7 linked regions of the Homo sapiens genome follow. The protein of the gene in region 3 purifies or fractionates together with the protein of the main gene of each other region. This does not show direct contact. Each region holds a gene or a part of one and is shown on either strand. Other genes may lie near its edges. The genes, in order: LIMD1, ZBTB21, TANC2, AGAP1, KCTD3, SRGAP2 and AGAP3.

What was found.
Region 1: the proteins of TANC2 (region 3) and LIMD1 purify together in Homo sapiens (affinity purification with mass spectrometry; one large-scale study listed by BioGRID and IntAct). This does not show direct contact.
Region 2: the proteins of TANC2 (region 3) and ZBTB21 purify together in Homo sapiens (affinity purification with mass spectrometry, with the first as the bait; one large-scale study listed by BioGRID). This does not show direct contact.
Region 4: the proteins of TANC2 (region 3) and AGAP1 purify together in Homo sapiens (affinity purification with mass spectrometry; one large-scale study listed by BioGRID and IntAct). This does not show direct contact.
Region 5: the proteins of TANC2 (region 3) and KCTD3 purify together in Homo sapiens (affinity purification with mass spectrometry, with the first as the bait; one large-scale study listed by BioGRID). This does not show direct contact.
Region 6: the proteins of TANC2 (region 3) and SRGAP2 purify together in Homo sapiens (affinity purification with mass spectrometry, with the first as the bait; one large-scale study listed by BioGRID). This does not show direct contact.
Region 7: the proteins of TANC2 (region 3) and AGAP3 purify together in Homo sapiens (affinity purification with mass spectrometry; one large-scale study listed by BioGRID and IntAct). This does not show direct contact.

What each region holds. Positions count from the first base shown.
Region 1 is NC_000003.12:45,671,251-45,674,750, forward strand, and holds part of LIMD1 (LIM domain-containing protein 1), read left to right. Parts: intron 1-1,439; coding exon 1,440-1,570; intron 1,571-2,203; coding exon 2,204-2,255; intron 2,256-3,092; coding exon 3,093-3,161; intron 3,162-3,500. UniProt on the Homo sapiens protein: Adapter or scaffold protein which participates in the assembly of numerous protein complexes and is involved in several cellular processes such as cell fate determination, cytoskeletal organization, repression of gene transcription, cell-cell adhesion, cell differentiation, proliferation and migration.
Region 2 is NC_000021.9:41,996,861-42,000,360, reverse strand, and holds part of ZBTB21 (zinc finger and BTB domain-containing protein 21), read left to right. Parts: intron 1-3,500. UniProt on the Homo sapiens protein: Acts as a transcription repressor.
Region 3 is NC_000017.11:62,972,735-62,976,234, forward strand, and holds part of TANC2 (protein TANC2), read left to right. Parts: intron 1-3,500. UniProt on the Homo sapiens protein: Scaffolding protein in the dendritic spines which acts as immobile postsynaptic posts able to recruit KIF1A-driven dense core vesicles to dendritic spines.
Region 4 is NC_000002.12:236,036,043-236,039,542, reverse strand, and holds part of AGAP1 (arf-GAP with GTPase, ANK repeat and PH domain-containing protein 1), read right to left. Parts: intron 2,983-3,500; coding exon 2,828-2,982; intron 1-2,827. UniProt on the Homo sapiens protein: GTPase-activating protein for ARF1 and, to a lesser extent, ARF5. Directly and specifically regulates the adapter protein 3 (AP-3)-dependent trafficking of proteins in the endosomal-lysosomal system.
Region 5 is NC_000001.11:215,619,304-215,622,307, forward strand, and holds the end of KCTD3 (BTB/POZ domain-containing protein KCTD3), read left to right. Parts: intron 1-753; coding exon 754-1,315; 3' UTR 1,316-2,504; downstream 2,505-3,004. UniProt on the Homo sapiens protein: Accessory subunit of potassium/sodium hyperpolarization-activated cyclic nucleotide-gated channel 3 (HCN3) up-regulating its cell-surface expression and current density without affecting its voltage dependence and kinetics.
Region 6 is NC_000001.11:206,458,541-206,461,738, forward strand, and holds part of SRGAP2 (SLIT-ROBO Rho GTPase-activating protein 2), read left to right. Parts: intron 1-82; coding exon 83-407; intron 408-1,044; coding exon of another isoform or gene 1,045-1,134; exon of another isoform or gene 1,135-1,139; intron 1,140-2,496; coding exon 2,497-2,880; 3' UTR 2,881-3,198. UniProt on the Homo sapiens protein: Postsynaptic RAC1 GTPase activating protein (GAP) that plays a key role in neuronal morphogenesis and migration mainly during development of the cerebral cortex. Regulates excitatory and inhibitory synapse maturation and density in cortical pyramidal neurons.
Region 7 is NC_000007.14:151,117,475-151,120,974, forward strand, and holds part of AGAP3 (arf-GAP with GTPase, ANK repeat and PH domain-containing protein 3), read left to right. Parts: intron 1-161; coding exon 162-303; intron 304-735; coding exon 736-870; intron 871-999; coding exon of another isoform or gene 1,000-1,030; coding exon 1,031-1,158; intron 1,159-2,512; coding exon 2,513-2,671; intron 2,672-3,045; coding exon of another isoform or gene 3,046-3,111; exon of another isoform or gene 3,112-3,181; coding exon of another isoform or gene 3,182-3,271; intron 3,272-3,500. UniProt on the Homo sapiens protein: GTPase-activating protein for the ADP ribosylation factor family. GTPase which may be involved in the degradation of expanded polyglutamine proteins through the ubiquitin-proteasome pathway.

The sequences.
Region 1 (3,500 bases), on a different chromosome or scaffold from region 3:
CCTCCTCTTGCCTTCTTGGCTGGAGCTTGTGCAGTGTGGAGTTATCCGCCTGAGGCTTCCAGGGGAAGGAGCTGTAACACAGCATATCTTTACCCCTGGGTCTCACAGTGTACTGACAAGGCTTCCCCAAATCCAAAATCCCCTTTCTTCAGCCTGTTTGAAGGCTTTCTGTGTGGGCTCCCACTGCTGGATGCTGATGACCGTTCTGTACATTCTTTGCAGATGCATGTTTTGGTGTGACCTTGCTCATGTTGATTCTGTAGTTCAGTTGTTTTTGCTAAGTTTCATGATGCAGGTAATTGCAGAAATGAATCTCCTATTAAGTCAGTGAAGATGCTTTCAACTGCAAATTATAGAAAAAACCCAGACTCAGTTCGAGTTAAACCAATGATCCTCCAACTTTAATATATATCAGAATCACCCTATTAAAATACCAACTGCTGGGCCTTACCCCCAGAGTTTCTGATTCAAGAAATCTGGGATGGGGTCCAAGAATGTGCATTATTAACAAGTTTGCAGGTGATGCTAATGCTGAAGGTCTGGGGCCACACACATTTCGAGGACCACTGACTTCATAGGAATGATATTTTATCTCACCTAAAAAGAGGCTTGGAGGTATGTGGTTCCATGATGAGTTAATTCAGTTACTTACGGACCTCACCAAGGATGTTCTTTCCATCTCTTCTCTTTCCTGCTGTCCATGTCTTGGGTCTGTCCTGGTTTCAGGTTGGCTCTGGCAGTTCCAGGTATCCCATCCAGATCCAGATTAAATGACACTGAGAGGAAGAAGTTTGTGGGGCTTTCCCTCTATTGCGTTTAAAAACAACAACAGAGAAACTTTACTTATTACACTTGGATTTGAGGTCATTGGGTTGAGTCAGAACTTCTAGATTATCATGCTCCAGAGTCAAAGCTGCATAGAAGGGGCATCCAAGAGGCAGAAGTGAAGGGGTTCCTTTTGAGCTCTGCCATTTCCACATGGAATTTCTTTTCATTTTTCCGAGTACTTGCTGCTTCCCAAATCTGGGAAGGATGTATCCTTCTGTGGCCCTGCTTTGCATCGTTTCCCACTTCTTCGTGGTGGATTTTGGCCCTGGGATTGGCCCATCCCTTCCTTACCATCTCTTTCTCTTAAAGAACTATGCAAGAGTTTCCTGTTCTGGGTGAGGGTTGGAAAGGAGCCCTCTTTCCCTGCCAGCTCAGAGACCCTGTGAGAGGCTGCAGGAGAAGGATTCCTGTGTGGTCTCTTCTGTGTATTCATCTAAACAGATTTGCCTTTCCCACCCCATCACCTCTTGCTCTTCTCCTAGGTGAAACTCGGGGGTAAGTGTACTCTGTGTGTGACTGCTCATGTAATCCTTAGGCCTGATGTGTTCCTCTCCCCTTCCACCATCTCATCCTTCCCTATAATCCCCACTGAGTCTTGGTCTCTGCTCCAGATCCTGCAAGCCCTGGGGAAGTCCTACCACCCCGGCTGTTTCCGCTGTGTCATCTGTAATGAGTGTTTGGATGGGGTGCCCTTCACCGTGGACTCAGAGAACAAGATCTACTGTGTCCGAGATTACCACAAGTAAGAAGGGATGGGAGCAGACAGGACCCATTCGTGTAGGCCAAGCTGATCTCAGCAGAGTGAGTGGTGGAAACCGACAAAACTGTGTTTGCCAGCCGCCCTTAGATCACAGTCCAGCAAAGGCTTAATGGTTTTGAGGGGTACAGCAGGGACCTTGGGAGGTTGGTCGATGCCAGTGTTGACAGGAATGGGTTAAAGAATCATGTTTAGTGAAAAAAAAAAAACAACAGAGCACAGAAAAACTAATAATCATATTTGTAGCTAGGCCTCGGGAGGAATCCACCAAGCCCTGTGGCTTCAGCGTTACCTAACTTCACAAGGCCCCTATGCAGTGCTGGTTCCTACCACTCTTGGTTTGCCTGGGCCTGTGCTAGGCACCATGAGAGGTGTAAACAAATCAGTTAGTGCTGTCCCCAGAAGAGTGAGAGGCAGCCAGTGTCCTCATTGCAGCTGGGGAGCAAATACTAAGGCATATTCCACAAAGTGAGCCAGGTACCAGTCATTCTATGAGGGAGGAGAGCAAGGGGCAGGAGGCGGCATGGAGGAAGGCTCCATGTGGATTCCAAGTGCAAGTCTGACTCTGGAATTTGCTCCCAGAAGCAACATTTATTGCTGCTTTGTTTCTCCCCACAGGGTGCTGGCCCCCAAGTGTGCAGCCTGTGGGCTTCCCATCCTTCCACCTGAGGTAAGATGCCCTTCCAGACATGCTCCCAGGGGCTTCTAAGACATGAATATCTCCCTGGGCTCATTTACAAGATCCATGTCCTGTCCTTACAGCTTTTAAGGTATCCTTTTAAAAATCTCAACTCTGGCCTGGTGCAGTGGCTCACGCCTGTAATCCCACCCCTTTTAGGAGGCCCAGGCAGGAAAATTGCTTGAGGCCTGGAGTTTAAGAACAGCCTGGGCAACATAGCAAGACCTCATCTCTACAAAAAATTGTTAAAAATTGGCCAAGTGTGGTGGCATGTGCCTGTAGTCCTAGCTGCTTGAGCCCAAGAGTTTGAGGCTGCAGCGAGCTATGATGGTGCTACTGCATTCCAGCAGGTGACAGCAAGACCTTGTCTCCAAAAAAAAAAAACCAAAAAAAACCCCACTTCACCTTTGAGATAAGTCGTGTCTTCACCCTTCCTTGTTGACTGGCTTCCCCAACCCAGTACCCTTCTTGTGCTGATTTGTCCCCATAACCAGGTCAAACTCCCTTACTTGATACTAATTCTTAGATTAGCAGATGAGGAGAAAGGCTTGTCTTTTCTTCATTTTTTAAAATAAGTGTCCATGTAGGTCTTTCTTTCAGTGTTAACTCTGACATTCTAGAAGGAAGGACTCCTATCCCTCCTACTTCCCCTCTCATCAGCTTAAATGTATTCTTCTTCCAGTAAGTACTCCTGATTTACCTTCTCCTCCCAAGGCCACCTACTTGTTACCCCCAAAACCCTCTTCCCTCCCCACCCCACGGTACATCAAGCCCGACAGCCCCCCTAACAGGCCTCTCCTATGTGTTCTTGCTTTTCTCTGGTCCCAGGGCTCAGATGAGACCATCCGTGTCGTGTCCATGGACAGAGACTACCACGTGGAGTGTTACCACTGCGAGGTAGACCCCTCCCCACCCAGCCCCCAAAGCCCATTGTAGACATCCAAGAGAAAAGCATCCTGCGTTGACTGGGGCAAGAGGCAGTCAACAAGATTCTGGCAAGGGTCAGCCCTCTAGAGCTTCTGTAGGAAATGGAATGAAGGCTGGTTCTTGGGGGAGGTAGGAGAAGATGGAAATGCTCAAGGTATAAAGGTCTTTCTTCTGCATATTCAGAACTATCAAGTCCTGCAACTGTTGGAGCTGCTCTCCCTGAAGCTGCAGAGCTAGGAGGGTCGTGGAGAGCATGGGTTTCAGGTCCTATCTGCGGGCCACATTGTCAGGCAGGTGTGCGATTTGGGG
Region 2 (3,500 bases), on a different chromosome or scaffold from region 3:
TATTTGGGAACTGATCCCAGGAAGCACAAGAAAGGAAGTAGGGACAGTAAGGCGGAGATGGAGGCTCATAAAGGGTACATTGATGAACAGGTTGCTGCTCACGTGTAGGATATCAAAACTGAATTCTTTAAAAAATCTGAACTCCTGGTTTTTCTGTCAAACCCCATCTCTCCTAAGGATGCCCTTCCAGTTATTTTGGCAGAATACTTAACTCCACACCTTCTGTTTTCTCCTGCAGTCTGTCCACTAGAAATTCTAATGACTCTGCCTTTACCTCCGTTGCTACCACCCTGGTCCCAGCCACCATCCTCTCTCATCTGGGTCATTACAGTGGACTGCAAGCTGGCCCGCAGCTTCCCCCATAACCTACCCTCTGTTGTCTAATCTCAACAACAGAGCCAGAGCAATCCTTTGGAAATGTAATTCAGGTCTTTGTCATTCCTCTGCTCAGAATCTTCAATGGCTGTCCATTTCATCCATAGTAAAAAATAAAGTTCTTCTGGAGGTCTCCCAGCCCTAGACGGTCTTACTTCTTATTGCCTCTCAGATGTCATCTTACATGGCTCCCAGCACACACTGCTCCATCCCTCCTGTTGCCTTAGCTTCTCCCTTTGTTGTGATGTTCTTCCTCCATTTATCTCCATGGCTCATCCCTCGCCTCCTTCACACCTTCTTTGATCCCATTTTGATGAATGAATGACATGAGAAGTTTCTGGTATAGTTTGTAGTGTAGGTTCCTGTACAGTTAGGTGCTATATAAATGGTAGCGACTATTATTATCTTATTTAATTCCCACAATAGCATTATGTGGTAGCTGCTAGTATTATCCTTATTTTATGGCGAGGTAAACTGAGGCTCAAAGAGGTTGGTTAGCCTAGAACAGTGGCTCTCAAAATATTTTGACTGACCCACAGGAAGGAATACATTTTACATCTCAATCCAGTCCATGCTTGCTTATGTGGGTATGTACATATATATAATAGAAACAAAAGTTTCTCAAGCTCATAATTAGCCTTATGACATTTGATGCATTCTGATATTTTCTACTCTGTCCTAGTCATTTATTTTTTAATTGCTAGTTTTAAACCACCAAGTTGAGTTTAAGAACCCCTTTTGACAAAGACTATCCAAGCCTTTAAATCTGTACCTTTAATTCTGTGTTACAGCTTTTCCCTGTGGCAACATCTGAACTAGCTTTGTCAAAAATTATTAGTGCTAAAAACTCCTCAGTACCCAGCTGAGTCAATACGTGTAACATTATAAGCTTATGTCTTTTTCTGCTGATCTCTGTAAAAGATGGTAAGGGTTTCTTCATACAAATAGATGTAAAGAAAGTATAGTAGGATTAAGGAAAATTTAAATGACTAAGAGAAGAAAAAGGAAGGGAAATTATCAAGTAGTCACAAATAGAATAATTTTTTAAAAAAATAGAGGAATTAAAATTTACCATTTACTTTGAAAGGATGGTAGGCGGGAGTGGACAGAAACTTGGTACAGTCTGACCAAAGTAGTTGTTTGTGGACAGGCTAAAGGCATCATCTCTAGAAGCAAAGTCCTGTGTCTCAGTCGGTTAAATTGAGTCGCATCTTATCAGGGAGTCAGAAGGAATTGTATACCGTGTGTGGCCACTCCCAGGTTGACAGCCTAGGAGACTCTGGGCTCTTCCTGAAGAGCCTGGTGGCTGGGGTAACCAGCAAAGGCCAGAAGAGAACCTACAAATGAGCTGGGGTCAAGTTTGGTTCATCTACAGTTTGCCCGCTAGAGAAAGATAAAACCGTCACAGATAGTTACTTGGGATTCATGTAATCTTAAAAATAAATGTCTTAACAATATTTGAAAGAAAATATGGCATTATAAAATGAAAGGGATGAGCCAGCTGTGGTGGCTCACACCTGTAATCCCAGCACTTTGGGAGGCCGAGGCAGGCAGATCACGTGAGGTCAGGAGTTCGGGACCAGTCTGGCTAATATGGTGAAACCCCAACTATATAAAAATACAAAAATTAGCTGGGCGTGGTGGTGCACGCCTGTAATCCCAGCTACTCAGGAGGCTGAGGCAGGAGAATCGTTTGAACCCAGGAGGCAGAGGTTGCAGGGAGCCAAGACTGAGTCATTGCACTCCAGCCTGGGCAACAGAGCGAGACCCTGTCTAGAAAAAAAAAAAAAAAATGAAAAGGATGAGGTGTTAGAGGAACAGAAGCCTAAATAAAGGGTCAAATACACAGAGTCAGGCATTGTCTCTGCATGAAATGGCTTTGTCTGCATCGAGAGTATGGTGGGGTTAATCTGCCCACTTTCTTTGATACTGAATTAGATGCCTATTAATCCTGCAATTTCTGAAAGTTAAGTGCACATTTGTTGAGTTTTCTTTAGATGAACTCTTTGCAACAACCCTGCAAGAGGAGGGCACAGTTGTCATTCCTAACTCAGGTGAGGGATCTGCCACACCGAGAGGCTAACAGAAACACCCAAGGACAATCAGCCAGCCTGCAAGGAACTGGCATCTCAACCCAAGTGTCTGGCACCAGAGCTTGCACTCTACCACTAGGCCTCCTCTTCTCATGTTTAGATTTGAAGAGCATTTCAGTGAAATATCAGTTTAAACTCTTTAATTAAATTTAGAACTAGGCTAAAGTTTCCTTTGTGCTATTGTTGAAAATGTGATTTGGTAAGAAAATAGTATTCATGAGATTGCAAGGCAAATAGCATAAGAAAGAAAACAAACTTATTCTTCAACACTTCTAATCTTTTTTTTGTTTTTTTGTTTTTTTGTTTTTTTTTTTTTTGAGACAACGTCTTGCTCTGTCAACCAGGCTGGAGTGCAGTGGCGCAATCTTGGCTCACTACAACCTCCACTTCCCAGGCTTAAGTGATTGTCATGCTTCAGCCTCCTGAGTAGCTGGGATTACAGGCACATGCCACCACCCTCGGCTAATTTTTGTATTTTTAGTAGAGATGGAATTTCACCATGTTGGCCAGGCTTGTCTCGAACTCCTGACCTCAAGTGACCTGCCCGCTTTGGCCTCCCAAAGTGCTGGGATTACAAGCGTGAGCCACCGTGCCTGGCGTAAACACTTTCATTAGTAATTAGCAAATAATTTTTTGCTTTCCAAATTCTTTTCTATTTTTAAAGGTCTCTTGGCCAGGCTCAGTGGTTCATGCCTGTAATCCCAACACTTGGGGAGGCTGAAGCAGGAGGATCTCTTGAGCCCACGAGTTGGAGACCAGCCTGAGCAACATAGTGAGGCCCCATTTCTAAAAATAAAAAATAAAAAAAATTACCCAGGTGTAATTAGTCCATTTTCACAATGCTAATAAAGACATACCTGAGACTGGGTAACTAACAAAGAAAAAGAGGTTCAGTGGACTCACAGGTCCATGTGACTGGGGAGGCTGTGTAATTATGGCAGAAGGCAAGGAGTGCAGGGCACATCTCACATGGTGGCAGGGAAGAGAGAACTTGTGCAGGGGAACTCCTCGTTATGAAACCATCAGCTCTCC
Region 3 (3,500 bases):
CTTTAGACTCATTGCCTGCCACTTCTGTCTTCAAAGTGCTTTAGCGGTAGTAAACTGTGTGTGGTTCCTTCAGTATGTAGTATTCTCCTACCTTTTCATGCCTTTATGAAGTTCTTTTTTTCATGGACTACTCCTGCCCTCTCCTTTGTTCTCTGGGCAAACTGCTTCACAGCCATCATGCGTTAGCCCAATGTCTTCCGAGTGAAGAAGGTTTTGCTTACTCCTCCAGGTGGGCTTGGGCATGATGTTCTCTATCTATTCTCCCCTTGCACTTGGTGTATATAGTAGTTGCCGCATTTTTTTTTTTTTTTTTACACGGCGTCTCACTCTGTTGCCTAGGCTAGAGTGTAATGGCGGCCATCTTGACTCACTGCAACTTCTGTCTCCTGGGTTCAAGTGATTCTCCTGCCTCAGCCTCCTGAGTAGCTGGGATCACAGGCATGTGCCACCATGCCCAGCTAATTTTGTTATATTTTTAGCAGAGATGGGGTTTTGCCATGTTGGCCAGCCTGGTCTTGAACTTCTGACCTCGAATGATCGGCCCGTCTCAGCCTCCCAGAGTGCTGGGATTACGGGCATGAGCCACCATACCCGGCCGTAACATATTTTAAATATTTAATATGACTGGTTCATCACTAATGTGTGAGCTTTTAAGCAGGCACTGTGACTTTTCATCTTTTCAGCATCAGTATAGTTAGTACATAGTAGGTGCTCATTATCTACTTATTGAGTGAGGATTGTTGACCGTTATCTCAGTTATGCCTTTGAAACCTCATCTCTTATTGTGGAATTAGAGGAAACTTTAGGCACCAGGAGGTAGGTTTAGAGAAATATACACACCATCTAAAATATTACTCAGAGTAAGTCCTGGACTGTAACTAAAACTAACCCTAAAGATAAACCAGATTTTGTTCTTTTTTATGTTTGCTGGTGGCAAGAGGAAGATGAGAAGATTCTCTGAACTTTAGCCAAATGATTTTCTTTGTACAATGCAAGAGTTGCCAAACTATAGCCCATAGACCAAATCCAGCCCATTGTCTGTTTTTGTATGACCTGCAAACTAAGAATGGTTTTTACAATTTTAAGCAGTTGAAAAGATATCAAAGGAGGAATGATACTTCATGACATATGAAAATTAAAGGAGATTCAAATTTCATTGTCCATAAAGAAAGTTCCATTGGAACTTAGCCATATTCACTTATTTACATATTGGGTATTGGGTGCAGCAGCAGAGTTGACTACTAGTTGCTGTCGAGACCATACGGCCTGCAAAGCCTAAATATTTACTAGCTAGCTCTTTAGAGAATAAGTTTGTCAGTCCTTGGTCTGTTACATAGCCTGTGCCCATTAAGTGTTCGTTGAATATCATGAGTTGGAGATATACCAGCTACTTTTTTGAAGGGCTTCGCAGGGCATAATTCCTTCTATTTACTGAGAAGATTGGCCACTTTGCTTTTGTAATGATTTATCTCACAGGCCCCTGTTGTACCTCTCTGATGACACCCTTATTACATCTAACACTGAATAAGACTCTCACAAAGTGTGTTTCAAGATTCTATTCCTTTTTTTTTCTTTAAAAGGTGGAGAGGAGTTTGGAGAACAGCATGTAGTAGAATGTTTTTCTTCGCTCACATCTCAGTTTCTCATATACATTTTTTGCAATAAAAGATCATTGTTATATTTTTAAAAACCTTGATTTTGTATATTAGTTTGTTAGGCAGACACCTTGTGTGTAAAGTTTAAAAGTTGAGGTGGATTAGTTATGTTGGAAAAACTGGGGTATTTTTATGGAGTGTATTAACATATTCATTCATTTAAATATTTATTGACTACTATGTATAAGTTGTTAATTTTACTACTATTGTCTTTGACTTGGGGATGGAAATTTCATATTCTTCCTTAAAAGCTAAAATTGTAATTCAGAATCCTGTGTCTTACATATTTTTTCTACCCCTGGGAAAAATATAGTTCAAAAACATATGTACCATACTATTAATATTTGCCACTTCCCTGAAGTTCAGTAAGCCAATGATGATAGATTTTACTGTTTTCTTTATGTGGCAAAGTGTTATGAAAAGGCAGTGATTGATATATTCCTTTTCGTAGATATCAGCCAATGTTACAGACATAAAATTCATAAAGAAAAGTACGTAAGCAATAATAGTGGAAAACTTGTCATTCCAAATGGATGATCTTTGGACCAGGTAGCCATTCTTATTTCCTTGTCTGTAATACCATGCTAGCATTATCATATGATGACGTAGCTGATTATAAAGATTGACAACATTAAGAAATATGGCCCCAGTTTTTTACTGCCATGGAAATCCCCTGGTTAATCCAGCCTTATAAGTAGATTATAGTTATTGAACTTGGAAACGAGAGTGGGTATATAGAGATTGTGATTTAGTCATTTTATGCTTGGAGAATGTGCTTCAAATCTCAGATCTCAGGCAATTCTGTCTGCCTAAATGAAGGTAGTCACTTCTTAGCCCTTTATTCCTAATCTTTCATTGGGTGGAGGAATCCCACAATTTCTAGTTGTGGTTGCTGAAATTTGGTAAGGCACAGCTAGTTAGGTTATAGGTTATAGAAACTTGATACATATTTATTGTACTCTGTAATTCTATTTCTGTTCAAATTCCATGGAATCCTCTAGGGCACCCTGGGATTGTGAATTAGTGTGAATGAATGTAAATAGCTTTAGTGGGCCTATGGAATGAAGACTTATTAAACCACATAAATAACCGTCCAACCACATACACCCATATTCTGCCTCAGGATCAGAGAATCAGCTTTTCCATTTTCGGGCTTTTTTTTTTAATTTTTTTTTTTTTTTAATGTAGAGACAGACTTTGTTTGAAAGCTGTTATTCAGACATTCCTATATTATAGGATGACAGTACTGTTGCTCAGTTGTAAGTTTAGAAATTCCAATGATGAGACCAGTATATATTGGAAAGAATATGACTTTATGAGTTTTGAATCATGAAAATGGGTTTGAATTACTGCTCTGTCACTAATTGTATGAGGGGCCAAAAATCTATCTCACAGGGTTTTTATGATGATGAAATGAAAAATATCTTGGTGAAAATCCTTAGGACGATGTCTAGTACTTAATAAATGGTAATTTTTATTAGCCTGTGGAAAGTATCCTAAATTTTTCTTTTTTGATATATGCCAGCTCCTCCCAATTTTTTACTGGCATTGTCACTCCAGCTTTTCTTTGTTATCTTGTCTTGATTTCCTTTTCAGCCTTGCAAGGCATTTTAGAAACCCATGGTAGTTTGGATACTGATTTATTTTATTCATATCCTTAAATTTTCTTTTGTGAAGTATTTGATAAAAGCTGAGAGAAAGAGTTTTTGAATAACTGTAAACCGAAAAACTCAGATACTGCTGGGCCTACTCTTTTTATGCATTTTTTTTGGACTATTTCTTTTGAACACTACTAACTTGACAAAAATTAATTTTAATCCTTTCTATAAAATCTCAAATCATAGT
Region 4 (3,500 bases), on a different chromosome or scaffold from region 3:
AGTCTTGGTACACACTCATGATTATTTACTAAGAATAGATTCCTGGAAGTAGAAGTTCTAAGTGAAAGGATATGTACTGGATATGTACCTTTTTCCCCACCTAGAGAGAGGGTCTTGCTCTGTTGCCCAGGCTGGAGTAGTGCAATCATAGCTCACTGCAGCCTCCATCTCCTGGGCTCAAGTGGTCCTCCCACCTCAGCCTCCTGAGTAGCTGGAACTACAGGTGTGAACCATGCACCTGGCTATTTAAAAATTTTTTTGTAGAGACAATGGTCTCCCTATGTTGGCCAGGCTGGTCTCGAACTCCTTGCCTCAAGTGATCCTCCCACCTTAGCCTCCCAAAGCACTAGGAGTACAGGCGTGAACCATCGTGTCTGGCTGATATGTAGTGTTTTTGAGGCTTATTTATTAAGTATGCATTTAATATTATGGTTAAAGCAAAAATTGATCAATTTCAGAGGACAGTTACAATAAGCTTGATTTTTGCGTAAGAATTCTTCATAAATTGAAACATCTCATCAAATTGATGTGAAATAATATATTACTTGCTACATAATAAATTATAATGTATTAATCACTACTGTCTAATTAGCATCATGCGTTATTGAATTTTAATTCCCTTTGGTTAGATACCCAAGTATTCAAAATATGTTTAAACAGTTTACACTGGCATCTGGAATGCAAGTGTGTGATCACACACACACACACACACACACACACACATACAAAGGGATGTGCCTCTGTCTCTCTGTGTACCTGTATCATTTCTGTGGTTGGTTGGTTTGTCTGTCTGTCTAGCTATGCCTATACCTGTATCAGCTCTCAATTATCCACTGGCAGGTAAAATACTATAAAGCTGGTGGTCAACTGGGCCTGTATTTTTGCCTCCCGCTACTCCTTGTGGACAGTATTTCCATGTTTTATGCCCTCACACCTGTTCAACCAATGCCCACGATGACCAGCTCTGAGTCGGCCACCTTTGGTTGCTCAACGCGTCCTCCTCCCAAGGGAGCAATTCCCTGGAGAACAGGCGCCTAGTGAGGGCCGAGGGCAGCATTCTAAGGCTGGTGTGTGCATGAGCTGAGACACGAGTCAGGAGGAGCCTGGCAAGGTGTGGAATGGGAAAGGCTGCCACCATCCCAGATCTTCCTGAATTAGGTCGAGGTGGCAGGGGCTCAGAGTCTGCCGTGAAAGACTGTGATTTCTCCATGAAGGCAGGAACCTGTGCCTCTCTGTTCGGTAACACAGCCTGCCTCCCTGCCTTCCTTCTCAGAATGAGCTGCCCACGCTTGGAGGATGCTGTGTGCTGTTGCTTCCCATTGAGGTGGCCCCAAAGCACCCTGTGCTCGTTTCAGGAGGCACATCATGGATGCATGTGGACGTGACCCAGTAAAGCCAGGGTGTATGGAATGAAAGGCAGTGGTTCTCCCCACCTTGAGTATAAAACATCTTTTAAAAAGGGAAGCAAATTACATTATAATAATAATGACTGTGGTCTGGTTTACCCTGGTTAAAGAGGGTAATAAAATAAGACACTTCATCTTTCTGAAAGACAGACTCTCTTTTTAGTGACAAAGCTGCACATAAATCATAGGCAGAAATTTCTTTAAATGGTTACAAATGAAACTGCAGGTCGGTGGGTAACATCCTTTCTCTTAGTTTCTAGTTGATCATAGTCTGAAATATCAAAATGCTCTCCAAAAGTCTAAGACGTCCCAGCAAAGAGGTTAAAGACAAACAAACATTAAAATAATGAAACTGAAGCAATCCTTGATGGGAAAAAGGACTTTTGTAGAAGGAACATCACTGGGCAGTAGCCTAGAGAACACAGGTTAAGCCAGGCGTGGTAGCTCATGCCTGTAATCCCAGGACTCTGGGTGTCTGAGGCAGGTGGATCGCTTGAGCCCAAGAGTTTGAGACCAGCCTGGGCAACGTGATGAAACCCCACCTCCACAAATAATATATATTACATAAATAAATATACAAATAAATAAGCAAGCAAGCCAGGCCTGTAGTCCCAGCAACTCAGGAGGCTGAGGTGGGAGGATTGCTTGAGCTTGGAGGTTGCAGTGAGCTAAGATTGTGCCACTGTACTCCAGCCTAGGTGACAGAGATAGACTCTCTCCAAAGGAAAAAAAAATACAGGTTAAAATATTTTTCCTTTTCTAGCTAAGTAACTACAAAAAACAAATTGCCTCTCATTATTTTTTTAATATAGAAACATTTGGGGGTGGCGTTTTCTGGTGAGAACCAGAAAACCTGCTGGACAAATTCTAAAAGAGCTGCACCACCACCTCTAATTATTGAATAAAACACATACCAGGCTTTATCAGTTTAGATAATAGAAACTTTATCTTCCCAAACTCCCTGCACGCTCATACAGACCCATCTACTTTTCATTTATGTCCCTAACAAGAGACGGTTTTCCAACTTGATGTCGATTTGAATTCTGGGCATTTACTTGAACAGTGCATCTTTTAAGTCCGTCTCTCTTTTTTTCTGAGTGTATTCTGTCCAAAACAAAAATAAATGTGGACCCAGAAGCCACAAGAGTCCAAAAGATTCCCTCTGGGATTGGCTGACAGACTGAAGATTTAACCTTGGCTCTCCTGCCAGGGAAGCACGGTCAGGCTGGAATACTCATGTATGATGGTATAGACACAAAGTGCTTCTGATCGTTTTAGTTATTGAGCTTTCTGCTCATAAAGAATAGCTAGGTCCTGTCATTCACACTGGTCCTCTATTTTCTCCTCCCTGGGGCATTACTTGGGGCCCGCACTCCCCCTGAGCAGCCCCAGCCTTGGTTTTGGGCAGCCAGGGGCCTCACCTTGTTCTTGCTGCTCTCGCACGACTGCAGGCTGGCCAGGATCTGGCTCTCGATGGCTTGGACCCAGGCGTCCCGCTCCTCATACGTCGTGGCTTCAAAGTGCCATGTTTGGCCAGTGAGGGACACAATGATAAACTCAAAATTTTCTTCTTGTTCTGAAACACAGAGTGTGGGATGAAGAGTTTAGCTTTTATGAGACAGCAGTCCCCCTGCGGGCCCTCTGTCACAGAAGCGCCTCTGGGTTCAGCTGCCCCTGCATGGACCGGTGAGGCGCACGGCACTGGACAACCACGGCGGCGGAGATTTGAATCCATGCACCTCCCAACAGTCCAGATGTGGTTCCTAAGGCCAGCATGACTTAGCCAGGTTTCAATCAAGGCTCAGGGCACAAGGCCAGATGAAATCAACGAGTGATGTCAGCGTCTCTGTGTGGTGCACACACAAAGCAACTTAGGAGAATAACCATGTAACTCATGGCTGACCATCCTTATCTGTGGGACGAAAATTAAGTTAGGGCCGCTAATCTCCGGCTGCAGGGTTAATTTCTATCTAAGCACTCGCGTAGATCCACAGACACTCCATGGATAGAGGAACGCGGGAAGGTTCTGTTCTTTTATGGCAGAGGACCTGTTACCGTGGGAGAGGCATCAATTCCCACGTTTTCAGACAGGGA
Region 5 (3,004 bases), on a different chromosome or scaffold from region 3:
GTTGGGTATTATAAACAAAATTTATTTCTTTTGGGGAAATTGACTGAAATATTGTAATCACATAGTTGTTCTAGAAAGCCATACTTCTCAAGGTACATTTTAAATTCAGACATTATGTTAACTTTTTAACAGTTTTACCAAATTTCTTGATAGGCATATCTGGTTCTTTTCATAGAAAAACATTTTTACCTTTTAACTTATTTTGTGAATTGCTGCCCAATTGGAAGCCTATTATGTGATCAAGAATTTATTCAAAGGAAATTAGGAAAATTACATGTCACCTTGGTTAGTATGTGAAGCTTTAATTATTGTCCTGTCTCAGGGACAATATTTATCTGTGGTTCTATTATGTTGTCTAGTCTTACATTTAAGCATTATGTAATTTTAATACAAAGTTCCATAATGTCTTTTTAGTTATCATATTGATAAATTCCAAAGTCTGAAGAACCAAGGGCTAAATACTGAATTATGATGGTTTCACATTGGTTTCAAGGATTTTTCCTCCCATCTTTTTTTTAGCTGTTCAAAAATTCAGCATGTCTGTGAATATATGATGGTATTATTTGCATTGGTAATTTTATATACCATCTATATAATAAAGAGTACTTGATAAGTATATTTTTACAAAGAGAAATATGGATATAATACACTTTATGTATTTATATAGTGTGTTTTATTGGTTGTATAATTAATATGTTCCTGAGAAATCACAGAGTGAAATCTGAACTGTCATTTTTAAAAACTGTATTTCAGCCTTCAGCTTCAGCACCATGATACCACCCATGAAGCAGCTACTTACGGTTCCATGAGGCCTTACAGAGAAAGTCCTTTATTAGCAAGGGCAAGAAGGACTGAGAGCTTTCACAGTTATAGGGACTTCCAGACTATTAATTTGAACAGAAATGTAGAAAGAGCTGTCCCTGAAAATGGTAACTTGGGTCCAATACAAGCTGAAGTGAAAGGGGCAACAGGGGAATGTAATATATCTGAGAGAAAGTCTCCTGGAGTAGAAATAAAAAGTTTGAGAGAATTGGATAGTGGATTGGAAGTGCATAAAATAGCTGAAGGTTTTTCAGAATCCAAGAAAAGGTCATCAGAAGATGAAAATGAAAATAAAATAGAGTTTAGGAAGAAAGGAGGATTTGAAGGGGGAGGATTCCTTGGAAGAAAGAAAGTTCCCTATCTGGCGTCATCACCAAGTACTTCCGATGGAGGAACTGACTCACCTGGTACTGCGTCCCCATCTCCTACAAAGACTACTCCATCTCCTCGGCATAAAAAAAGTGATTCTTCAGGTCAGGAGTACAGCTTGTGAAAACTCACCAAAATGAATAGTTGTTTCGTTACATTTAGATGAAAGTTAAACTTTACTGAATTTCAGTACATTAGTTTTTACACTAAAACTTTACAAGATAAAATTGGACTTCATTTAGTATCTTTTTAACAGAATTACTTGGAATAATGAGATACAATAATCATATCTCTTTTGACATTTTGGAAATTTTTTTAATTTTACAAGTACATTTAACAGATCATTTATAAAGCAGGAGTCCATTTTAACACTTACCGACTTTTTTTGGTTTGGAAACATATTACCACGTCTTAATAGGATGGTGCCCATATAGGTGAGCATCCCTTTAGATCATGGGAACCAGCAGACTGCATTCCTAATCTTCATTATGCCTGAGACTTGTCTTACAATGTTACCTTTAAGTGAATCACATAATTGTCTTTGGAACTTGGTCTCCCAACACTTATTGTGATTGCAAAGTGTTTACCAGATATTTGATGAGGTGCTATGTTTGTGAAAAACATATCATGTAATTCAAAAACACTATTGATATTGAATACCAGATACCACTATGTAGTAAGTCTTTTAGGATGATTTTAATTTAGTCGTGCGTCATTTTCTGATTCTCATCATTGGGAGATCTTAAATCTTAGCAAGCATTAGCAATATTAAATGCCAAAATTCCATTGAAACTTTCAAGTTGGAGCAATTGTCTGTGTTTGAAAAGATGAAATAAAAATAATAATCAAGGGCAAAGCTTTGAGTGCCCAGAAGGGAAAGCTGTACCAGTTGCTAACCTGTCTTGTTTCAGGAGCCACCATGTTTTTTTTTCAGTGTTAACAACAATCATGATAATTAAATTAAAACACTAGTTTGTTCACTTGTAGGACTGCAGTTCTGAATTTTGGGTTAAAGGTTTTGGCTGCTGTAAGAATGTGAATTTGAATGTATTTTGAATTGTAAGAGCAAAAGAACGTTTTTGTACAATTTTTTTTCATTTAATTGGAATGATCTTCAGGTTTCTACAAATAGGGTAATTGTAAATTTAAAGCATTAGCATTTATTGGTGAATAATGTATATATCCCCATTCCAAGAAATATAAGTGAGTGAAGTTGAAATAAAATCTTTAAAATTTACTATATTGCCAGTGGTTTCACAACAGTTCTCTTGTATTTATTTATCAATTAAATCAAATAAAAATGATTATGTCAATGCGTTTTCAGTTATTTAAGTAACAGTTCTGTTTAAAGTGTGCTATATATGTTTGTTCATTTCTTTGCTTCTTCCCATAATTTAAAAAAAATGGGGGGAGGGAGAACTTAATATATGTGGAAAATAAGTTATTATCAATGAAAGAAAATATTAGGCAAAGCATAATTTCAAAATTACTAAGATTGTAATTATCTTACACCCTTCTTCCTCTTTATGACAGTTATGTGAAAGTTGGGTGGGCAAGTAAGAAAATGAAAGAAAAAACTAGACTCTAGTGACCAGGAATAAAAGGCCATTAAAAAGAAGATAGTAACTATTATGTAATAGAATCGCATAAAAAGGAAACTGACTATACTAGATTGCATTACAGTACAAGTCAAATCGTTTCTTTCTTTTGCTTACAGGAGATTGAACCTTGATGCAGTGGTTTATGTCTGTCTACTCTGACACTAATTTCTCAGATTGCCCCCATTATGCCTTAATTTTTTCATTATACCTAC
Region 6 (3,198 bases), on a different chromosome or scaffold from region 3:
ACATCTGCCCCCTCCCACTTATCCTAGCTTCCTTGGAGCCAGGGCTCCCTGATCACACTGCCCTTTCTGTTTGTGATTGAAGGCAAAGGAAGCGTCCAGAATCTGGGAGCATCCGGAAAACTTTTCGGAGTGACAGCCATGGGCTGAGCAGTTCCCTGACTGACTCCTCCTCCCCAGGGGTGGGGGCTAGCTGCCGCCCATCCTCCCAGCCCATCATGAGCCAGAGCCTCCCCAAAGAAGGGCCAGATAAGTGTTCCATCAGTGGGCACGGGAGCCTCAACTCCATCAGCCGCCACTCATCCCTGAAGAATCGGCTGGATAGTCCACAGATCCGGAAGACTGCCACAGCGGGAAGGTCAAAAAGCTTCAATAACCATCGGCCCATGGACCCTGAGGTCATTGCTCAGGTAACTGTGGGCTCCTGGACAGACAGCATGAGTCTACATTCATCACTACCACTTAGTGCCACCCACCTAATTATGACAGGACTTGAAACAGAATGATTATTTTGTATGTGATATACTGAGTATATGTCCACTCTGGACATGTGGACCCAATAAGACAGCTTAATAAGTGGTCTGCCTGTCCCTCTCTCCCCAGGAAGAACCTAAAGACAGAATAAAAGAAGCCTAGCTTCTTGCTCATACACTGGCTATTAGGAAGGCTGTTGTAATTTTTAAAGCCGGTATTAAGAGTATTTTGAAAGCCCAAGTTTTGAGTCTAAAGACCTTGGTAGACTTTAGTGAAACTGCCCGACTGTTGAGGATCAGGTGTAATCCTGGCCACATGTTTATATTGCTGTGCCCATCACCATCATCCCGATTCCTAAGGCTAGTCTCTGGTACCGAATGGGTAGATGATCAATTAAGAACCTGCACCTGGTTTTAAAGACCTAAAAAATACTCTGGCTGCAGAGAGCTCTGGTAACCAAAAGGATTTGCAGCCCAAGCCTCCAGAGGCTATGGAGATGAGCTCCCTGGTTGCAGGGTCTTCCTTCTGTGTATGCACCGCACTGATGACTCTCTGTTTTCCATGAAATATTAGAGATCCAACCCCACCTCTAAAAATCCGACTACCGGGGCCACTCCAAGCAGTTCACTCAGACGTCTCTCCCAACTATATAATTTTCATTAGACCAGGTAGGAACTAAGGGCTTATTGTTGCCTTCTTATCTCAACTGAGTTGAGATTCTCCTTACCCCATCTTCCAGGGGGTGATAGAGGCTGGGCATGGTCTCTCTTGGCTTAATTGTGGTTCTCTGCTTACGGAGATGTACCTGGCAAGCCCAGTATTGAGCTACAGGCCTGAGATGTCTTGCTTTGCTAGCCTTCTATTCTGTGCCTCTATTTAAGCTCTTGGCTGCAATCTGCCTTGCGCTACGGGAATCCTCCCAGCTCCCTCCTTGGCCAGGTGTTAATAGGAATGTCAGGAAAGGTAGACAGCTGGGACAGACTAGCTGTAGAGTGCGACTGAGGAGGGAGATGGAGTTCTTCCTGAGCATTTTAAAGGTTTGAGAATGTCATAGGGATGAGTGAAACTGAATCACTGTGAACAGAAAGCATGCATCGGTCTGTACGACAAAGAAACCTTAACCAAAGGCCTTCGCTTGGAATGTGTAAAATCTTTCCATGTGAACCTAATCCCAAGAAGAAATCCTGTGGTAGTTTGGGGGTGCCAGACACAGGTTTATGGGGAGGGAGCGGGGAGCTGGGAAGTCTCACTGGAAGGCAGCTGGCTTGCATACAAAGGTTCTTTGGTTCTGCCTTGAGTCCCTGGGCTAGGACTGCTGTTGGCTAAAGATCTAGAGTGTTCCATTGATTTGCAGGCAATTGATTCACCTATGTGGGCTTTGGCTCCCCTTCCTGGTCATTCTTTTGTCCCCTTGGTGGTGATGGCTGGAAGGAAATGGTTTCAAATTGGACACTGCCCTGAGTTGGGGAGGAGGGGCGGGGGGAGGCGTATTGGGCTCCTGAAACTTTCCTCAGCCCCTGAGGAGGAAGGACTAACCCTCTTCACCTTTGGCCTTGAAGTCCAAGAGAATAAAGATCATACATCATCTCTACCACTTTTTAAAAAAGTGTTTATTATGTACAATTTCAAACCTACCCAAAAGCAGACAGAACTGGATAACAAATCCCCATGTACTCATCACCAAACTCCTGGCCATTCTTACTTTGTCCGTGTTTCTCTTCCCCACTAGATTATATGTCACTTCGTCGATAAGTATTTCAATATCTATCTCTAAAACCTAGGGTCTCTAAAAAAATATCAATTACTTTTTCTAAAGGAAAAAAAAAAATCTCATGACAGTGAAAATCCCTCCGTCCCCCTTTCCCTACTTCCTGAGCATTCATATGTTCAAAGATTTAGGCCAAGTACAATAATCTGGACATCTTACGGTCATTTTCTTCATGCCTTGGCCTGTGTTGTTGAAACCGGCTCCTTGGGGAATTCTCCCCTCATTTGCCTCACCTCCTCCTTTTTCCTGTTTTGCAGGATATTGAGGCAACAATGAACTCGGCCCTGAATGAGCTACGGGAACTAGAACGGCAGAGCAGTGTCAAACACACCCCTGACGTGGTTCTGGACACCTTGGAGCCCCTCAAAACCTCCCCAGTGGTGGCCCCCACGTCAGAGCCCTCCAGCCCTCTGCACACCCAGCTCCTCAAGGACCCCGAGCCCGCCTTCCAGCGCAGCGCCAGTACTGCTGGGGACATCGCCTGCGCCTTCCGGCCTGTCAAGTCTGTCAAGATGGCTGCCCCGGTCAAACCACCAGCCACACGGCCCAAGCCCACTGTCTTCCCCAAAACAAATGCCACTAGCCCTGGTGTCAACTCATCAACTTCCCCACAGTCTACTGACAAGTCTTGTACTGTCTGAGGGATAATAATTTAATTGTTCTAGACAAGGGGACTATAGGGACTGACTGTTATTAAAATCTTCCTATTTAACTAGCTTGGGGACTTCAGTTGAAAATTAGGTTCTAAGTTGTTCTTGCAGGAATTAGCCTCCCCGTCTCCCAAAACCTTGAGAATGAAGCCCTTGGTATCGCCTCTCCCTTCCCACTGCCCTCTGCTTCCCCCAGTCGTCGTAATTCAGCCAGCTGCAGTCCGTACCGTTCTTAGGTTAGCCAGAGACAGGTTTTCATTATCAGGTCACTGTGAAATCTGGTAAGGCAGTCCTGAGGACATGGGCTCA
Region 7 (3,500 bases), on a different chromosome or scaffold from region 3:
GTTAGGGCCCACCGCTGTGCCTGGAGCCCTTTCTCGAGCTTGCTGGTTGGGACTGGGAGAGGTGGTATGTCCAGGGAGAAGGGTCTACTTGAGTTCACCTGCCCTGCATGGGAGTTTGCCAGGTCCAGTTGCGGGTGCTAATTTTACTTGCTCTACCCTAGTTTGCTGCCTGGGTGGATGCAGTGGTGTTTGTGTTCAGCCTGGAGGATGAAATCAGTTTCCAGACGGTGTACAACTACTTCCTGCGTCTCTGCAGCTTCCGCAACGCCAGCGAGGTGCCCATGGTGCTTGTGGGCACGCAGGGTGAGGCGGGGCCCTGCAGGAGCTGGCAGAGAGCAGGAAGTCCCGGGCAACGATGCATGGGGGCAGGGGTGGGCAGGTGTGAGAAAGCCCCCAAGCCCCTACTCTTTTCCCAGTGCTGACTGGGACCCTCAGCACTCTCCGTGCTGCTCGTGTCTGAGGGCTTTTGCCCCCACTGAAACCTGCTGTCCCTGTGACTAGCAGGTCTGTGTTTTTTTAGATGAATAAACGTGCTCAGAGCTTAAGTGCTTGCTGGTTTGCACTCAGTGAGGCCATGGAAGGGTTGAAATGAGACCCAGGCACCCGCGTTCTTGGTGCTCTGTGTGTTCCACTCACCAGGCCCTTTGCACACCTGCCCTTGGGCCAAATGCCCCCCACCACACTACCCCAGCTTCTCCGAAAGCTGAATGACTCCCGCCCTCCCACCTCCAACAGATGCCATCAGCGCTGCGAATCCCCGGGTTATCGACGACAGCAGAGCCCGCAAGCTCTCCACAGATCTGAAGCGGTGCACCTACTATGAGACGTGCGCGACCTACGGGCTCAATGTGGAGCGTGTCTTCCAGGACGGTAACTCGGGTGCCGGGTGGGAGTCACTGGCAGCCGCGGCCCCAGTGCTGGCGATAGGAAGGCTCCCAGTGAGAGCAAGGCTGTGTGTCTGGGGGGAGGTGCTAAGCCAGGCTTTTCCCTTCTCTCCAGTGGGTATAATTGACTCTGCTGTCCCCTGCAGTGGCCCAGAAGGTAGTGGCCTTGCGAAAGAAGCAGCAACTGGCCATCGGGCCCTGCAAGTCACTGCCCAACTCGCCCAGCCACTCGGCCGTGTCCGCCGCCTCCATCCCGGCCGTGCACATCAACCAGGTTCGGCCTGTGCCCCGCCCTGCCCTTCCTGTCCCCACCATGTCTGTCTTGCCTCTGTGCGTCCTGCCACTTCTGCTGGCCTCCTGCTCACACCTGTCCACCTTCCTCTGGCCTCCCAGCCTTGCATGTTGCTTGGAAACATTGGTTGGAATTCCATTTAGCCGGCACCGTAGCCTTGGCCTCATCCCTGCCCCACGGTGCCTGCCCCTTCCCGCTGCAATCCCCACTTCTCTCTGCTCTCCACCATTCCACAGCCTGCATTCCCTACCCCGATGCCCTCTGCTGAAAGTCCTGGGCCATCCACAGGTGGCATGGTCAAGGCAGCAGCCACTGCACTTTACCTCTGCCAATGACCGTCATCTCTCCAAGGCCTGCCCTGGCTGCAGCTGGTATTCCAGTGACAGCCTGGTTGCATTTCAGAGACCCTTCCCTTCAGGGCTGTGAGAAGGCGGCAGCGTTCCCATGTGGGAAAAAGGAGGAGGAGGGCTGTGTCCTTCTTACTGTCTCTGAGCAGCCCCGCCCGACACCGACGGAGTGGGGCTTGCGCAGCTCACTTCTGCAGTGGTCCCTGTCCCGAGGGGCAGGTTGTGGAGGGGCAGTGGTCCAAGCACCTCTTGTACAGGTTAGGGTTCAAGGGAGGCAGCCGGGTAGGCCACACGCTCTAGTGAGGGCAGTTGCGGTGCAGACCACCTGGTTGTGCCGTGCATGCTTCCCGAGTCCTGGAGGAGCTGCCCTACTGTTTCTTCTCCATTCTGTGATCTCTGTCTTTTTCTCTTTCTTTCCCTTCTCTGTTCCACATCCACACCTTACTCTGATTGGGAGTCATAGCTCTGTTCTCTCTGCCCCAGCTGTCCCGGAATCCCTTTCCCTGCCATGGGCATGCTAGAAACATGCTGCAGTGCCCTGGGCCACCTCCGGCTCCCGCCTCCTGGCCTCCTGCACTCTAAACATACATACCTGAATGTGAGAGTTTGTCCGGGGTGACCCTCTACCTCCTTCCAGACCACCTGCAGGTCAGGACTCCAGTCTGTTCACTGCCAGGCCCTGCAGCTGATTCCCACCTACCAGCCTGTGCCTCTGACTTAGCTCCCTGGTTGGCCAGAAGCACTCCTGCCGGGGCCCCAGGACGAGGGTTTGCTGCCCTAGTGGGGCAGCCCTGGCAAGGTGACAGTAGATCCTGCTGGCCTCCAGGCCAGGTGAATGTTCCCCCCATATCATCTGTAGGGGCTAGTGGCCCCTCTGCTGCCCATGAGCCCCGGCCAGGCCCCCATTAGCACAGGGATTCCCGGCACCCGCCTGGTGCCCGTCCCGCCCCTGACCCGGAGCTGCCCTCAGCAGCCCTCTTTGTCCTTAGGCCACGAATGGCGGCGGCAGCGCCTTCAGCGACTACTCGTCCTCAGTCCCCTCCACCCCCAGCATCAGCCAGCGGGAGCTGCGCATCGAGACCATCGCTGCCTCCTCCACCCCCACACCCATCCGAAAGCAGTCCAAGCGGCGCTCCAACATCTTCACGGTACGTGACTGCCCTCCTCCCCCGCCCAGCTGCCTTTGCTGCACAGGCAGGGCTGAGCGCCGAGCTCCCAGCCAGGAGGGGCGTGGGCAGCCCCAAGTCAGGAAGACGGTACCTGCAGTCTCTCCCTCAGATACACACGGCTCCCGAGGGTCCTTGCCGGTGCCCTCAGAGTCTTCCAGACTGTTCTCTGCACCCACAAGGGGTTTCCAGTAGCGGCCCTTACCCTGTCCCCACAGTCCTCCCTGCCCTCTGCCGCACACACTCACCCTCCCCGCCGCCTTCCTCTCTCCTAGGCCCCTTTAGGGTGTCTGTGAGCTTGAAAGTATCCTTGGACTCACTTGGCCTAACTCCCCTGACCCCCTTTGATTCAACAGCTAATGAACCGGCGGCCGGAAGGCTGTTTGCCCAAGGCGACACAGAGGGTTAGCTGGCCCAGCTAGAGTCAGAGCCCAGGCCTCCCCGTCGCCTTCCGGCTCTTTTTCCGTTACCCCACTGCCGAGGGGAAAATTCATGCTTTCCACCCACCGCTGTGATTGGTTTAACAAAGGCTTAGCCATCTTTTCCTGGGCTTCACCACGCTGCCTCGTTCCTCCCTCTCAGGTTTGTCCTGTCTCCTTGTGAGCTCCTCACTCACCCCTCACAAACCTCACACCCCACACCTGGGGGCTGTTGTGCTGGCCCGGCTGAGGGTGGCCTCTGGCTCTCAGGCCCCAGGGCCTGCTGTCTCTCCACTCCCAATGTGCGACACACAGTGCCCATCCAAACCCTAATCCTCCAGCCGGGCTTGGCTGGATGTTCCAGGAGTCTTGGGCCAGACAAAGGTGGGTGA